Linked DNA regions of Homo sapiens: region 2 is linked to region 1. The links come from fine-mapping of genetic effects on gene expression. A gene starts in region 1. The other region holds a variant in brackets. All regions are shown on one strand. Distances are from middle to middle. Region 1 holds the start of MROH2A (maestro heat like repeat family member 2A). Region 2 overlaps MROH2A (maestro heat like repeat family member 2A).

Region 1 (9,171 bases):
TTGCTTGAACCGGGGTCAGGGGGTTCGGAGGTCGGAGGTTGCAGTGAGTCCGGATCATGCCACTGCATTCCAGCCTGGGTGACACAGCCAGACTCTGTCTCAAAAACAACAACAACAACAAAACAACAACAACAACAACAACAAAAATCTCACTGGACATCCTAGTAGCTAAGGCTTTCCACATATTCATGATTACTTCTGTTGGAAAGTGCTTTACAACAAATTGCTAGTTGTCTCAGTCTGGGTTCCCCTGAGATGAGGATTCAAGGGCCAGGAGTTTATTTAGGAAGTAAAGGAAACACTGATAGAGGAGTGGCAGAGTGAGAAGGGGTGATGGTCATCCACAGCTGGCTCTCTTGTGGTCAATCGGAGCTTAATCCTGCTGGGTGACTCTGGGAGCCAGTGGAGAAAAGACACCCCAGACTTATCCCAATGAGGAACACGGCTGTTGGGTGCCTGAGTACTTGCCTCGTCAGGGATTGAAACGTACTCCCAGGTAGTAGTAATTTCTCTGCCCTTCCATTAGGCCACAAAGGGGGCTCTGACAGAGAGAGCTGACGAGAAAAAACACACGCCCTTGTCACTGAAGAGGTACACAGGGGATCTGTGTGGGGCACCACCTGCACTGCTACCCTGGACAAATAGCTTAAGAAATCCCCACACTGCATCCCCAAACTTACTATCAGCGTGTGAGGGAGACAGGTTCCCACACCCTCATTAGCACAAAGTACTATCTTGAAAAAGAAAGCCTGTCAGTTTGATAGGAGAAAAGCAGGATCTTGTTTACAATGTGCTTTTATTATTGTTATTATTAGAGATTGTATTTCTTTTCAAGCTGATGAGCCGTCTGTGTTTATTTTTTGGAGGATACCCTTTGCCCACTTTCCTATTGGAGTGTATTACCCTGAGGATTTGGTAAGAGTGCTTATTGCATTCACCAGAATGTCCTTTTTGTCATTTACTGTATTTTCTCTACTTTTTTTTTTTTGCCTTGTTTTACTTTTTTTGTTTTGTATTACAAGCAGAAGTTTTAAATTTGTAAGCTTCAAATTGGAGCTGGGGTGGTGCAGAGCGAAGATTTCAGCTGGTTCCCTGACCCCAGCTCCATCTCCTTCCCTAGGCAGTGGCTGGAACACATTCTGTCCACTATTTCCCTCTCTACATCCTTGAGGCTGTGCAGTCACCCCTCAACTACGTTCACCCTCCTTCAAAGCCCTTCCTGGTCCACCCGGGGACCATCTCCCGGCCTCACTGCCCCTAGCTCCTTGACGCCCCAACCTCTCTCAGGGACCCCAAGTTGCCATGACCTCCAGCCAGCTCATGTTCATTTGCACCTTCGTGTCTGCAGCACTGAGGCACTCTTGTTTACAAGTGAGAGAACCCAACTCGGGATACCTTAAGCATAAACAGTATTTTTGTAAGGAGACAGGCTTCTGACGACGCGAGGCTCATAGCCAGGCCTGCGCTGGGTGGAGCCTCCCCTTCTCACTCCTGTCCCTGTTGGGTCAGAGTGCCAGCTTTCCTCTTCCCTCTCCTCCGGGTCTTTTCGGCCCCTCAGTCCCCATATTCCTCTGCCCTAGCTCCCAAGATCCCACAAGAGACAGACTGGATTCTCTCTGGCCTGGAGTGCCACCTTCCTGAAAGTCAGAATCTGATTGGTCCAGCTGGATCAGGTGTCCTCTCCCTGTCCAATCATCAATGCCGAGAGGGATTACGGAGAGAAAAACATGGCTCCCACCATCCCATTGCTGTGGCTGCTTGGGCCACGGGAGAGGGAACCTTGTGAGCCGGGCAGAATCCACCCTGTAGAGACTGCCTCTGGGTGAGTCATATGGTTTGGCTGTGTCCCCACCCAAATCTCATCTTGAATTGTAATTCCCATTACCCCCATGTGTCATTAGAGGGACCTGGTGGGAAGTGATTTGAATTATGGGGGCAGTTATCTCCATGCTATTTGTGTGATAGTGAGTTCTCACAAGATCTGATGGTTTTATAGGGGGCTTTTCCCCCTCTTGCTCATACTTCCTCTTGCCTGCCACCATGTAAGATGTGCCCTTGCTCCTCCTTCACCTTCTGCCATGATTGTGAGGCCTCCCCAGCCATGTGGAACTGTGAGTCCATGAAACCTCTTTTTCTTTATAAATTACCCAGTCCTGGGTATTTCTTCATAGCAGTATGAAAATGGACTAATACAGTCAGCTTCTGCACAATATTTCCATTTTCCCACATTATGTCTTGGGCCTTTTGTGTATTTAAGCTCACAGGATGCTACGAATAAAGCGTTTTCTTATTTCCTGGGTAGTTCCCATAGAAGTAGTGGTGCAACGTGCCATAGAGTGACAGCACCTAAGAGAAGCTGATTTTGTGAGTGGATTGTGAGTTCAATATTGTTGTCATAATCAGAAAAAAATGTATTTACTTTTTTTTTTTTTTTTTTTGAGACGGAGTCTCACTCTGTTGCCCAGGCTGGAGTGCAGTGGTGTGATCTTGGCTCACTGCAACCTCCGCCTCCTGGGTTCAAGTGATTCTTCCTACCTCACCCTCCTGAGTAGCTGGGATTACAGGCACATGCCACCCCACCACACCCGGCTAATTTTTGTATTTTTTAGTAGAGACAGCGTTTCCCCATGAAAAAAAGTATTTTCAATTTGGAAAGCCAAGCAGAGCCCCCTTCTTCCTCCTTGGTCTCACTGTCTTCATGTCCTCTGTAGATAACATGCTCAGGGGCCTCTTACTTTTGGCCATGGCTTACACACTCGACCTGTGTGTAATTTAAAAATGACCCCTTTCTCCACTCCTCCTGATTGCCATATCCTTCACAATGTGACTTTGCAACTCTTCTCATGAAAAGGAGGAATCTATTTCTCCAGCCTGTGGGTCCTGGCTGGCCTGTGACCTGCCCTGGCTGACAGAGTGTGGCAGGTGATGAGCACTGGTTTCAAGTCTAGGCCTCAAGAAGCCTTCATATTCCCGCTCACTGTCTCAGAACCCTGTCCAGCTGCTATGAGAACAGCCTGGGTGAGCCCTGCTGCACAATGTCCCCATCACCCTAGTCATTTCAGCCAATAGCGAGCCAATGGCCAGCCCTCTAGCTGTCTGAGATACATGGGTGAGACTCTAGTTGTGCTTGGCTGGACAGAGCACAGATCCACAGACCCACGCAGGTGACTCATACACTTGTGAACTATAATAATCGGTTGTTTTCAGTCATTAAGTTTTGAGGTGGTTTGTTACACAGCAATTGCTGACACATTCACTTCTGGCTCTAAATGTATCACTTTTCATGTGTTGAGTCTGAAGACCTTCAGAGGACAGAGATGTGTTCCACCTACCCTATATCCACTGCAGCATGGAAAGCCATGCTTAGCTGCACACAGTAGGCGTGCAGTCTGGGCCTGTGGAATGGACTTGGCAACCACATCACCTCAGTGATCTTTCAAACGGAAAAGAAGGCTCAGTGGGGAGTGGGAGGAGGTAGTGCAGAGGGGCAGTCCTGTGAAAGAAGGGGCATGGGATAGCTGCTTGTGTCTATTTCATGTTGATCAATGTATCTCCAAGTGCAGAACAAGGAATAACGCAGGAATTTTATGAGGAAGAAATGTTGGGCATGATAAGAAAGCTCATTTTCTAACCATCTGAATTCCATGAAGTAGAAAGAGGCTGGTCCTGAGAGTAATGAGCTCCCTCGTATTGGAGGTGTCCAAGCACAGGCTGAGGAACTCCCATTTGGCTGGATGGGCAAACTTGGAGTGGAAATTCCACTTAAGCAACCTTGGCCCTAGATGTCTCTGAGTTTTGTTCCTGTTGTCTTGCAGTGCATAGAAAGATTTCCCAAAGGCCAATATTTCATTGTTGTACCTATGATCTGGATCATCTCTCCTAGCTATAAATGACAGGGAAATCCTTTGGGCTCCACTTTTGGTTTAGGAAATCAGGGTGCCTCCTCTCCTACCTGTCTTTGATGTTCTTTATCTTGTAAGTATTGTGCTAGTGGAAATCCAATTTCTTATCCTGCAAGTCATCCAGTCCCCGGGAAGGAGGAGTGCTCTCCCCAGGGCCTCTCAGTCTGCCCCTCCTCTCCTCTCCAACTGTCCTGACCACACCTCCCCACCCAGGGCTCACATGACTGTGTTCCCCTGGGACTTGGTTGTAAGCCATCCCCACTTCTACCATCTCCCTTTCCCAAACAGGCCCCTGTACTTCAGCACACACATGTGAATAACAGAAATGTTGAATGACAACATGATGTGGAGTTTTCACCCCAGAGCCCTGTGCACTCTTCAAAGACCTGGGTTGATAGAGACTCAGGGAGGCAGTTGGATCTCAAAGTTCCGAGGGTCTGGGATCTAACGGTGATAGTTCTAGTGAAACCCTCCCACCCTTCCAGGAGACCCATTCCTATAAGAAATATGACTGAAGAGCCCAGCTGTCTCACTTTGATAACCAATTCTTCCATTTGCATTTCCATTGATGTGTATTGGGCCAAGAGCAGAGCTTTTTCTTGTGGTTAATATCTGTTTAATCCAGAAGAAGACCCTAAGGAAAGGTCAGTATTTAGGTCCCAGAGTAGCTCTTTAAAATCCTTTAAAGGAAAAGAGAGTATGGGATAGTAAAGGGCCATGGGATGGATCTTTGAGGATCAAGGAACTTGGGACAGGAGGAGAAAGGATCTGAGAGCCTTTCTTCCACCATCTCGACATCTATGTTGGTGTTTCTCAATTTTTAAGAAGCTGTGGATGTTGAGAGAACCCCTTAAAGGAGTTATGAGAGATACTGATATGAATTTCTCATTAGCCATTAATTATCAGTGTGTAGAAGAGAGGGCGAGAGGGCTCTATTAAACTAAGGATATTATCTATTGCTGTGTAACAAATTATCATAAACTCAGTGGCTTAAAAGAACATCCATTGATTATCTCACGGTTCCACTGGCCAGGAGTCTAGGCATGGCTTTCCTTGGTCCTTTGTTTAGGGTCTCAGAGACTGCAGTCCTTTCTGGAGTTCAGCTTCCTCTTCCAAGCTCATGTGCTTATTGGAGAATTCAGTTTCTTATGGTTGTAGGACTGAGGCCCTCAGTTCCTTGCTACGTGGCCCTCACCACAGGCAGTTTGCATCATGGCTGTTTACTTTTCAAGGCCAGTAGAATGTTTCTGTTCAATCTGATAAGAGGGAATCTCATGTGGCATAGTGTGATCATGGGAATGACATCCCACCATCTTTGCCATATGATGTAATCCACTCGAGAGAGGGTCACCCATCACCTTTGCCATATTCTGTTGATTAGAAGGAAGTCACAGGTTCCACCCACACACCCTCAAGGGGATGGCTTTATGGAAGGGTGTGGGTCGTTGGGGTCATCTTAAGGTGTGTGTCACACCCCGTATTTTACAAATTCTGTTGATCTCAAAAGAGCTTGAGGAAGAGATGACTGAAGCCATTACAGAAGCAGCAGTAGCCTCAAGTGAGGAGGTGTCAGAGGAAAGAGACGACCTGGGGCCTCTTGAATTACATGACAGTGGTAAGAATGTCATCCACATTTCTGCTTTCCTGCCCCATCTCAGACACTAACTCTTTGACTGCAGCCCCAGCCTAGGTCTCCCTTTCTCCATCTGCACAGTGGACATCATACCACACATGAAGCTGGAGCTGCGCAGGTGGAGGCAAGGCCAGGGACACAAGGGCACCTCCTGTCATGGTCATTTCCACACTGCACCTGGGTGGCGTTTGTTTTCATAGGTACCTTTCAACAAGTCGTGAACCTTCTGGACATCATTGACAGCGAGTCAGCAAAGACGGACACAACAGGGGCAGGCCTTGACATGCGGAAGACCCTGGCCTCGGTGATAATCATGGAGAAGGCCACCACTGAGCCTTCTGTAGTGATAAACACTCTCATCCGCTGCCTGCAGGTGCCAGAGGTAGGGCCATCTTACCCACTGGGCTCAGCCACCTTTAGCTCTGTGTGCATCCATCCACCACCCAGCACATAGTTACTGACTATCAGAGATGTGATGTGTGGTACTGGGATACAGAGATGGGCAAGACTGTGAGGTGCTTACTCCCTGAGGACCAATTGGGACCTGAGATGTTCATAATTTTTAAAAGTTCCCTTGTCTTCTGACACAGTGGGTTTGGGAGCCATTGTCCTACAGCACATGAGCTGAGTTGCAAAGATGTTGAGCCAGTGGGCATGGGAGAGTAAAGATACACCAGACACAGTGTGCAGGGATGTTTGGCTAGTGGGGAGATGCCTAGCTGGGTTAAGGGGCTGGGGTAGAGGATGTTGGAGGGAGTGATACAAAGTGCAACCAGGGGACCTGGTGGGCTTGTACAGACAAGGTTTGCATCACGTGGTACCAGACAAGGTTTTGGACTAGACAAGGGTTTGGAACAGAGCTGATCCAAACCTTGCTGGGCACCACCCCCAGAGTTTCTGATTCAGTAAGTCTGGGGTGGAGCCTGAGAATCAGCATTTCTAACAAGTTCCCAGGTGATGCCAAGGCTGATCTGGAGAGCCTACTTTGAGAACTGTTGGATTTTAGACTACCCTTTTGTCTTGGAGTGGGTAGCAAAGGGGTGCTATGAGCAGAGGAGCTTATTTATAAAAAGTTTTATTATTTTTGTTGGATTTGGATTTGCATTTGCGTTTTCCCCCTTTTATTTTTAGTTGACACATAACAATTGTACATATTTATAGAATACAAAGTGATATTTCAAAACATATATACAATGTGTAATGACCGAATCAGGGTAATTAGTATATCCAACACTGCAAACATTTATCATTTCTTTGTGTTGCAAGCATTCAAAACTGTTTCTTCTAGTTTTTTGAAAATATACAATCAATCATTGTTGACTATATTCACAACCTACAGTGCTATAGAACACAAGAGCTTATTCCTTCTCTCCAGCTGTAATTTTGTATCTTTTAATCAACTTCTCCCTATCCTCCCCTGCCCTTACCTTTCCCATACCCTAATACCGAAATTCTACTCTTGACTTCTATGAGCTCACCATTTTTATAGCTCCCATATATGAGTGAGAACATGTGGTATTTATCTATCTGTGCCTGACTCATTTCACTTGACATAATGTCCTCCAGTTTTATTCATGTTACGGTAAATGACAGGGTTTCTTTTTTTTATGGTTGAATAATATTCCGTTGTCTGTGTATACCACATTTTCTTTATCCCTTCATACATTGATGGGTACTTACGTTGATTCCATATCTTGGCTATTGTGAATAGTACTGCAATAAACATGAAAATGCAGCTATCTCTTAGATATATTGACTTCCTTTCTTTTGGATACACACCCAGTAGTAGAATTGCTGGATCATACGGTAAATCTAGTTTTACTTTTTTTGAGAAACCTCCATAGAGTTTTCCATAATGGCTGTACTAATTTATAGTCTTACCAACAATGTGTGAGGTTTCCCCTTTCTCCACATCCTTGCTAGCATCTGTTATTTTCTATATTTTGGATAAAAGTCTTTTTAACTGGAGTGAGATAATATCTCATTGTGGTTTTGATTTGCATTTCTCTGATGATTAGTGAGGTTGAGCATTTTTTTATATCCCTGTTGGCCACTTGTATGCCTTCTTTTGAGAAATGTCTGTTCAGATCTTTTGCCCATTTTTAAATTTGATTTTTTTGCTATTGAGTTGTTTGAGCTCCTTGTGTATTCTGGTTATTAATCCCTTGTAGGATGGAGAGATATTCTCCTATTCTGTGGGTTGTCTCTTCGCTTTGTTCACTGTTTCCTTTGCTGTGCATAAGTTTTTTGCTTGACATAATCCCATTTGTCTATTTTTGCTTTTGTTGCCTGTGCTTTTGAGGTCTCACACAAAAAATCTTTGCACAAACCAATTTCCTGGAGCATTTCCCCAATGATTATTTTCTAGTAGTTTCATAGTTTCAGGTCTTGGATTTAAGTCTTTAATCCATTTTGATTTGATTTTTGCATATGGTGAGAGATAGGGGTTTAGTTTCATTCTTCTGCATATGGTTATCCAGTTTTCCCAGCACCATTTATTGAAGAGACTGTCCTTTCACCATTATATGTGCCTAGCACCTTTGTCAAAAATGAGTTGACTGTAAATGCATGGATTGACATCTGGGCTCTCTATTCTGTTCCATTGGTCTATGTGCATGTTTTTATGCCAGTACCATGCTATTTTGGTTACTATGGCTTTAAAGTATATTTTGAAATCAGGTAGTATGATGCCTCCAGCTTTACTCTTTTTGCTCAGGATTGGTTTGTCTGTTTGGAGTCTTATGGTTCCATGTAAAAATTGTCTGTAAAGAATGTCATTGGTATTTTGATAGAGATTTCAATGAATCTCTAAATTGCTTCTGGTAGTATTTTGATAATATTAATTTTTCTATCAGTGAGCATGAAATAGCTTTCCATTTTTTGGTGTCTTCTTCAATTCTTTTCATCAGTGTTTTATAGTTTCCCTTGCATAGATCTTTCACTTCTTTGGTTAAATTTATTCCTAGGTATTTTATATTTTTGTGGCTATTGTAAATGAAATGGATTTCTTGGTTTCTTTTTCAAAATGGGTGAAGTGTTCTGTTGTTTGCCATTTGGCATATACTAATGTTACTGATTTTTGTATGTTAATTTTGTAATCTGCAACTTAACTAAATTTATTTATCAGTTCTAACAGTTTTTGGATGGAGTCTTTGTATTTTTCTAGTATGAGATCGTGTCATCTGTGAACAAGGATAATTTGACTTCTTCCTTTCTATTTTGTATGCCCTTTGTTTCTTTCTCTTGCCTAACTGCTCTGGCCAGGACTTCCAGTATTATGTTGAAGAGCAGTGGTAAAAGTGGGCATTTTTATCTTGTTCCAGATTTTAGGAACAAGGCTTTCGATTTCTTCCATCTGGTACAATGTTAGCTGTGGGTTTGTCATATATGGCTTTTATTATCGTGAGGTATGCTCTTTCTATGCCCAGCTTGTTGAGTTTTTAAAAAATCATAAAGGGCTGCTGAATTTATCAAATACTTTTTTTAGCATATATTGAAATGATCATATGATTGTTGTTCTTGGCTCTGTTAATGTGATGTATCACATTTATTGATTTGTGTGTATTGGACCATCCTTACATCCTTGGGATGAATCCCACTTGATCACGGTGAATGATCTTTTTATTGTGTTGTTGA
Region 2 (9,171 bases), 49 kb after region 1:
ACCTCAACCAAGTCCCCAGGAAGAGGAGGGAGAAACCCAGAGATGTTACGACATCTTTCCGGGGTTATCTTGCCACCAGGGTCCAGGCACCGATGTGGCCCTGCCCAGCTCTTGGCAAACGTCAGGCAGGGGTGGGGCCGCCTCCACGACCTGGCACTGTCTCTCCTCTGCAGGCTGTGCATGCAGCACGTGGAGGGCCACAGGCAGAGGCTGGCCGAGCTGGTGCTCAGGGGCATGGACTCAGAAGTCCTGAGCTGCCGCATCAGCAGCACAGCGGTCTGCGTGGAAATGAGGCACCGGGTGTGGGCGGGGTGCAAGCGGAGGGGATGGGGTCCCTGGATTCTTCTGGGGATGGCTTGTCTCCAAGGCATGGGAGTCGGGGGGACAGGCGAGCGCCCCTCCTCTGAGTGCTCATTCTCTCATCTGCTCCTTCATTCATTCATCACATGAGTAGTGCAGGGCAGGCCCTGCTGGAAAGACAGGCTGAGCCCTGCAGCATTGCAGTTAACTGATGTGTGACCCAGGCAAGTACAGTGACCCAGGGGACCCAGGGAGGGCACCTGGGTTCTCGCTGGGGCAGGCTTCCTGCAGGAGGACTCAGAGAGGCCGAGGGGCTTTGCTAGGTGGGAAGGCAGGGCCCAGCGACCCTATCTCAGAGTGAGTGTTGGAGCGTCCTGAGGGCAATGATGCCCAATGCACCCTAGGAACCAACCACAGCCCAGGCCAGAGGCCGGCCAGTGTTTTCTGTAAAGGACTGCAGAGTAAATTTTTGGCTTTGTGGCCAACTAAGCTGTAGCAGGAAAACAGCCACAGCCAATAAGTCAACCAGTGGGCATGACGGTGTCAACAAAACCTTATTGATGGACACTGGAATTTAAACTTCATGGAATTTTCATGTGCCATAGAATTTTCTTTTCTATATTTCTTTTCCCCAACACTTAAAAATGGGAAAATGAGTTTTGGCAGTGGGCTGTACAAAAGCTCCTGGAAGTACAAGACCAGTCTGGGAGGTACTCACCAAGCTTTTATAGGTTCTTCAGGCCCCTCCCTGTGTTCAGGCCTCTGTAAATCTTCAAAATGAGGATGGGAAGGAGAAGTGCTCCCTCGTTGTCTCACCCAGGACCTGTCCTTTGATGTGCCTGAGTTTGGAATTTTCAGCGGCTGGAAGCCACACAGGGCCAGGCGCAGGTGCTGGAATCCGAGGGCCTGGTTAAGAGCCTCCGCTCAGTTGCTGATTGGCTGGAGATGAAGTTACTTAGCGTCTCTGAGCTTCAAGCTCTCCATCTGCCCAACTGGGGAAAGCAGTGCCTTCTTTTCAGGGCTTTGGTGAGAGCTAAATGAGATAGACCGTGTATGCATTGCTTGCTTGGGAGGTAAGTGCTCATTAAATGCTAGCTAATTATGGCAGTTTAAAAATTAGGTTCAGCTTTTTTGGTTCCATATGAATTTTAAAATAATTTTTTTCTAATTCTGTGAAGAATGTCAATGGTAGTTTAATGGGAATAGCATTGAATCTATACATTACTTTGGGCAGTATGGTCATTTGCATGATACTGATTCTTCCTATCCATGAGCATGGAATATTTTTCCATTTGTTTGTGTACTCTCTGGTTTCTTTGAGCAGAGGTTTGTAGTTCTCCTTTGAAGAGGCCCCTCACTTCCCTTGTTAACTATATTCCTAGGTATTTTATTCTCTTTGTAGCAATTGTGAATGGGAGTTCATGATTTGGCTCTCTGCTTGCCTGTTGTTAGTGTGTAGGAATGCTTGTGACTTCTGCAGATTGATTTTGTATCCTGAGACTTTGTTGAAGTTGTTTATCAGCTTAAGAAGTTTTTGGGCTGAGACAATGGGGTTTTCTAGATATAGGATCATGTCATCTGCAAACAAAGACATTTTTACTTCCTCCCTTCCTATTTGAATACGCTTTATTTCTTTCTCTTGCCTGATTGCCCTGGCCGGAACTTCCAATACTATGTTGAGTAGGAGTGGTGAGAGAGGGCATCCTTGTCTTGTGCCGATTTTCAAAGGGAATGCTTCCGGCTTTTGCCCATTCAGTATGATATTGGTTGTGGGTTTGTCATAAATGGCTCTTATTATTTTGAGGTACTTCAATACCTAGTTTGTTGGGAGTTTTTAACATGAAGGGATGTTGAATTTTATTGAAGGCCTTTTCTGCACCTATTGAGATAATCATGTGGTTTTGTCTTTAGGTCTGTTTATGTGATGAATTACGTTTATTGATTTACATATGTTGAACTAGCCTTGCATCCTGGGAATGAAGGCTACTTGATCGTGGTGGATGAGCTTTTTGATATGCTGCTGGATTCAGTTTGCCAGTATTTTATTGAGAATTTTTGCATCGATGTTCATCAGGGATATTGGCCTGAAGTTTTCTTTTTTTTGTTGTATCTCTGCCTGGTTTTGGTATCAGGATGATGCTGACCTCATAGAATGAGTTAGGGAGGTGTCCTTCCTTTTCAATGGTTTGGAATAGTTTCAGAAGAAATGGTATAAACACCTCTTTGTGTTTCTTTTTCCTTTTTTTTTTTTTTTTTTTTTTGAGACAGGGTCTTGCTCTGTCGCCAGGCTGGAGTGCAATGGCGTGATCTCAGCTCACTGCAACCTCCACCTCCCGGGTTCAAGCAATTCTCCTGCCTCAGCCTTTCGAGTAGCTGGGACTGTAGGCATGTGCCACCACACCCAGCTAATTTTTGTATTTTTAGTAGAGATAGGGTTTCACCATGTTGGCCAGGATGGTCTCGATCTCTTGACCTTGTGATTTGCCCGCCTCGGCCTCCCAAAGTGCTGGGATTACAGGCGTGAGCCACCACGCCCGACCACCTCTTTGTATTTCTTGTAGAATTCAGCCTGTATAGCCAAGACAATTCTAAGCAAAAAGAACAAAGCTGGAGGCATCACCCTACTGGACTTCAAACTATACTATAAGGCTACAGTAACCAAAACAGCATGGTACTGGTACAAAAACAGATACACAGACCAATGGAACAGAATAGAGAACTCAGAAATAAGATGGCACATCTACAGGCAACTGATCTTGGACAAACCTGACAAAAACAAGCAATGGGGAAAGGATTCCATATTTAAAAAATAGTGCTGGGAGAACTGGCTATCCATTTGCAGAAAATTGAAACTGGACCCCTTTCTCACACATTATGCAAAAATTAACTCAAGATGGATTAAAGACTTAAATGTAAAACCCAAAACTATAAAAACCCTAGAAGAAAATCTAGGCAATACCATTCAGGACATGGGCATGGACAAACATTTCATGATAAAATCACCAACAGCAATTGCAACAAAAGCAAAAATTGACAATTGGGATCTAATTAAACTAAGGAGCTTCTGCACAGCAAAAGAGACTATCATCAGAGTGAACAGGCAACCTACAGAGTTGAAGAAAATCTTTGCAATTTATCCATTCAAAAAAGGTCTAATATCCAGAATCTACAAGGAACTCAAACAAATTTACAAGAAAAAAACAAACAATCCTATTAGAAAGTGGGCAAAGGACATGAACAGACCCTTCTCAAAGAAGACACTCATGCAGCGAATAAACATATGAAAAAAAGCTAAATATCACTGATCATTAGGTAAATGCAAATCAAAACCACAAGGAGATACCATATCATGCCAGTCAGAATGGCCATTATTAAAAAGTCAAGAAACAACAGATGCTGGCAAGGTTGCAGAGAAATAGGAACACTTTTACACTGTTGGTGGGAATGTAAATTAGTTCAACCATTGTGGAAGACGGTGTGGTGATTCCTCAAAGATCTAGAACCAAAAATACCATCTGACCCAGCAATCCCATTACTGGGCATATACCCAAAGGAATATAATCATTCTATTACAAAGATATATGCATGTGTATGTTCATTGTAGCACTATTCACAATAACAAAGACATGGAATCAACCCAAATGCCCATCAATGATACACTGGATAAAGAAAATGAGGTACATATACACCATGGAATACTATGCAGCCATAAAAAGGAATGAGATCATGTCCTTTGCAGGGACATGGATGAAGCTGGAAGTCATTATCCTCAGCAAACTAATACAGGAACAGAAACCAAACACCACATGTTCTCACTTATAAGTGGGAGCTGAACAATGAGATCACATGGACACAGGGAGAGGACCAACACACACTGGGCCTGTTGGGAGTGGGGTGGGGGAAGAGAGAGTATTAGGAAAAACAGCTAATGCATGCTGGGCTTAATAACTCGGTGATGGGTCGATAGGTGCAGCAAACCACTATGACACACGTCTACCTATGTAACAAGCTTGCACTTCCTGCACATGTACCCCAGAACTAAAAATAAAAATTAAAAAAAAAATTAGGTTCAGGTTTAAGAAGCAAGCTATTTAAATTCTTCAAATTTGATAGGGATGGATTATAAATGATTTTTTTTTAATGCTTGCTGACAATAGTGTGGGGGCTTTACTCTTCAGGAATTTTCCCTGAAGAGCATTTAAAATAGGTTGTGATCGTTGTATTCACTGCTCTACCTGGCCCTGAATAGGTGCTCAGTATATGTTTAAATGAATGGAAGTGCTGTAGGAAGCTCCTGTGATTGCTGATGTTGGTGTCTGGGACAGGCTGGAGGTGGACTGAGGTGGAGACAAAACATTTGGAAGCTTAGAGCAACTGCGCCTAATGGGGGTTTAAGGAACTAGATGTGGGGATAGTCAATAGATGCTCATTTCTCCTGTCCCTGGACTCACCAATTTGGTGTTTAGTTTTCAGGCCTCTTTCAAACATACTCAGGTACTTGCATGCACACATGTACACACATGTACACACATGCATGCACCCACACGCATACCAGTGAGGTTTTGGCACTCAGAATACTAGGCCATTAGTAATTCTCCTGAAAGTGAAATTCATGTTTTTTGTGCCTTTCTGTTCAGATGCAGGTGGGCGTGGCTCTTGCATTTGGCAGTGGCTGTTATGTTACCTGAAAAAATAAATGACGAATTTATATATATACGTAACACTTATCTAGCATTCCCCCCATATTTCCTTATTAAATCCCCACACAGACCCTGAGGCAGGTACTAGCATCACCC[G/A]CTTTTTATAGAGAGGAAACGGAGGCTCTCAGAGCCCCTCCCCTCCTGTCCACAGAGCCACCAATCTGCATTACCTCTCCTCCCACGTCCCACCTTGCTGCTGAGAAATGAGCCCGCCCTGGGGATAACTGCCCAATGTCCTCCCTTCCAGTTCATGAGCGGCCCAGTTCTGTACCAGGAGAAGCTGCTGAAGCCGGCAGCTTTGCTGCTGGAGAAGGGTGCCGACCAGGAGGAAGACGAGGCCCTGCGGGTGCTGTCCCTGCGCGCCCTCGGCAACATGGCCCTGGGCGCCCCCAAGAAGGTACTGTGCCTGGCCCTGGGCCCAGGTCCCGGGAGCTGAGGGTGCAGGCCGGGTGCCCTGGTCAGCCTGGGAGGGAGGGTGCAGGCTGAGGGCTGCCCATGCCCCTCCAGGTGAAGCAGTACCGGAAGGTCTTGCTGGAGAAGTGCCTGGGCCCCCTGAGGGAGCCCGTGAGCAACAGCGTGACTGCCGAGGGCATGGAGGCCCTGACCAAGATCCTGGCTGAGCTCCGGGAAGGGGATGTGGGGTCCTCTTTCGACGCCATGTCTGAGCAGTGCAGGATCTTCTTCGACAACGTGAGTCCGATGAGAGCCTCCCTGAGCTTGCTCAGTGAAGGAGGGGCACTTCTCAGACCCTAAGGAAGAGATGGGCTCTAGAGCAGAAAAGAGCCGAGGCTCCTGCTGGGTGTCAGTTTAGCGACTGGCTGATCACGGGATCTTGTGAAGTAAAAGGTATTCTTCTAAGTTCCAGAGAATCAGTGCTGTCAAGTGACGGCTCCTGGGCCTCTGCAGCCCTGCTAGGAGGGAAGGGTCTCCCCCTTTTATTCCTTGCAGCTACAAATACCCCCAGGGCACCTGTGTCACCCTGGGCCTCTGCTAGGCAGGGCTGTGCACTCAGATCCTGCACAAGCCCTCACCCAGGGAAGAGGCGGGCACAAAGACCAGAGCAATGCCCAGCCCCTTGAGGGCTACGTGATCCCTGCCAAAGGAGAGACTACACCCTGACGGAATGATCCAGAAGGCTCTGCAGGGACCAAGGCATTGGGTATTCCTTGGAGAATGGCTGGGGTTTTGCTGGGCTTCCTGCTGCCTGCATGTCAGCCTGTGTCCATCCTGGCCACAGGAGAGCGAGCTGCTGCGTCTGAAAGCCTTCATCCTCTTTGGAAAGCTGGCAAGGGTGGTCGGGATGTCCAAGAAGCATTTCTTCAAAGGGGAGGTGAAGAAGGCCTGGATCCCCCTCATGCTGCACTCCCAGGACCCCTGCTCCAATGCAGCCCAAGTAAGATACATCCTGGGCTTTGTGTCCCAGTCTGGGGCCCGCTGTTCCCCGAGGAAACAGGTCCTTGGGTCTGCTGGCTCGGTGAGCTGCAAGCTTTTCTCTGCCTCAGTTGGTTTTCTCTGAGATCCCAGAGGCCACAGCCTGCTCCCTGCTGTCCTCCATCCCTCACACAGGCTGAGGAGAGAGGCCATCCGAGATGACCTGCAAAGCCACCTCACTAAGCAGTCTCAGCCCCGTGTCGGGGGACATGGTGTGGTGGCTGCCTATAGCCCTCCTCTGCCCAAACCCTTTCTTCTAGCAGATTCTGTAACTGGCAGGTCACTTTTGAGTATTAGGACTCAAAATACCCCAAAGTGGTCTTGTCCACTGCCTGCAGGCCCATGTTGGGATGGGAGCGGGCCTGGCTTCTCCCTCTCCACAGCCCAGCTCCTCTGTTGCTTTGGGGCAGGAGGAGAGGGAGAGACAGATTTGTTAGTAAATGTGCCTTCTCATTTGAGTTGCTGCCTCTCAGGCTAACCCCGGCTGGCTGGGGACCTCAGGATCCTCACTCCCTGCATGGCCCATGACCTTGACCGCCCTCTTCTCTCCCTAGTCTCTGCTTACAGACTTGGGGGGTGGGGTCAGGAAGTGGGGAGGTGGCTGATTTGGGGAGGTTCTGCCCCCGCCTAGTAAGCCTTGGGACGCAGCTGGCCTAACATGAAAGAAATGCAATGGTCATTTTCAGCAGGTGCCTTGGACTCCAGCTCTGGGGTCACAGGACAAGTACTGTCACTATGAGGGCAGCAGTTTCCAGGTGGGGTGGAGCGGGTGGCCCAGATGGCCTGGGTGGCCCAGGTGGGATGGCCCAGGTGGCCCAGGTGGGATGGCCCTGGTGGCCCAGGTGGGATGGCCCAGGTGGCCCTTACAGGCAGTGAGGGGGATTGAGATGCACACTCCCTAGACCTGGGCTTTGCACTCACCACCCCAGCTTCTGGACTTTGCCACATCCCTCTGCCACACCATCCCTGGCCACCCTGGGCACAAGGTGTCACTGCCCAGAGGCTCCTTTTCCTTGCCAGTCCTCACCACCCTCTGTCTTCAGCCCACACTGTTCTTCCATGTTTTATCGACAACTGTCCAGTGGGGTGGGGGGGCTTCAGGGAAGGAACCAGGGTGCACCCAGCAATGGTGACCGAGAGTGAGGAAAGGGCTACCGAGACAGAAGCATTTTGTCTTCCTGCCCTGCCGTCTCCAGAAGCTGTGGCCAGCAGGCTTGGTCACAGGCAGATGCTGGTGGACTGGGCCTGGGAGGTGAGGACACGTGCCCAGTCTTGCCTGCTCAAGCCCGGCTCCCGCCTCTGATCCCATGGAGGGCTGGGTCCCAGGCAGGGCTGCTGAGGGCACGAAGGTGCTGGCTGAGGGGGCGGGTGGGGCTGCATCTGCCCCCAAGGGGCTTTCTATAAATGTACCTGCAGCCATGTTCAAGCTGGCAGGGGCCCAGGTCCCAGGTGGCCTCCCAGGAGCCACCAGCCCTGCCTTTCTTTGGCTTGGTGAGGCTTTTCTGGGGCTGCCCTCTGGCTTCCTGCCAGCCTCACCCCTCTGGGGAACCACGTGGCCTGGCTGATGGCTCTGCTGCCGTCCTGTGTCCCTGCAGGCCTGTATGGCTACCATGTTTCAGTGTGTGCACTTCTGGGGCTGGAAGTCCCTGGAGCATCCCTCAGGGCCAAGTGATACCGCTACTGATGACAAGATGACCGTTTTCCAGACAACCATGTGCTCCATCCTGGTGAGGAAGCCAAAGGGGGAACCAGCCCGTCCCAGGTGGCCACACGCTGGCTTGGAGCTGGGGGGTCGAGATTGCCACAGCTCTTTCTTGGGGCCCTATGTTTACCTTCCACACATGCCATGTCGAGACCGGCACTGTGCAGCAGAAATAGAAGGCAAGTCATGTGCCTATTTCAGCTGTCTGATGTTTCTTTTAGTAGGCACATCCAGAAAAGTGCAGAGGTGAAACTAATTTTCATGTATTTTATTTCACTCAAATAACTAAAACATGATCATTTCAACATGTAATCAGTATAAAAACTATTATTGTGATATTTTACAATTTTTGGGGTACCATCTTAAAACCCAGGGGGCACTTTACCTTAATTCAGACCAGCCACACTTGAAGTGCTGCAGGGTTACACATGGCTTGTGGCTACCATGTTGGACAGCACAGGTTCTCTGGTCAGATGGGATATGAAAAATATAACTGGTGGCCAGTGGTCCTTCACTTGCCAGCTACTCACCTGCTGTGTGACGCTGGGATGGGCGCTTGCCCTCTCTGATGCATCTTGGTGATGGGAACACGCTTGATGAATGACAGCCCATTGTCAGGGTCTCATCCTCCAAAGCTGTGTGTATCACTTACTTTTTGCAGACTCGGAAAAAGCCGGCTGTTCTCTACCGCTTCTTGCTAGAAACAATGGCCTATGTTAAAAATAACTTGTCAAGAATCAGAATCGCTGCTTGCAACTTGGCAGGTGAGCAGAGAGACGTCTCCTGACTCAAGATAGACTTTGAAGGCCCTCTAGTCCACCCCGGCACTCGGGGGAAGGGTGGATCATGAGTGGGAGGCATGTGGCAAGCTGAGACCAGAGCTCAGGTCTAAGCCCTGCACTGTGCTTTCTATCCCGTTTTGATTTTGGCTTCCTCCCTGCCAACGTGGGCTCAACAAAATCTTTCATCAATGCTCTCATAACGTAAAGTAAGTAAACCACAGGACGACTTGCCTGCTGACCTAATACTCGCGTGATG

The links.
Region 2: its variant is fine-mapped to the expression of MROH2A in sun-exposed skin (GTEx, PIP 0.98). The same link has a PIP of 0.9 or more in esophagus mucosa.

Annotation. Positions count from the first base shown.
Region 1 is chr2:233,773,936-233,783,106 of GRCh38, forward strand. It overlaps MROH2A (maestro heat like repeat family member 2A), which reads left to right and starts at 4,395. Exons shown (of 42, transcript NM_001394639.1): 1 at 4,395-4,546; 2 at 5,410-5,517; 3 at 5,736-5,917. The coding sequence starts at 5,424.
Region 2 is chr2:233,823,383-233,832,553 of GRCh38, forward strand. MROH2A (maestro heat like repeat family member 2A) reads left to right here. Exons shown (of 42, transcript NM_001394639.1): 35 at 174-282; 36 at 5,248-5,397; 37 at 5,508-5,690; 38 at 6,238-6,393; 39 at 8,027-8,158; 40 at 8,795-8,897. Among named protein-coding and RNA genes, the nearest start is that of HJURP, 27 kb to the right of the region's middle. The variant G/A (reference allele first, on the strand shown) is at 5,097.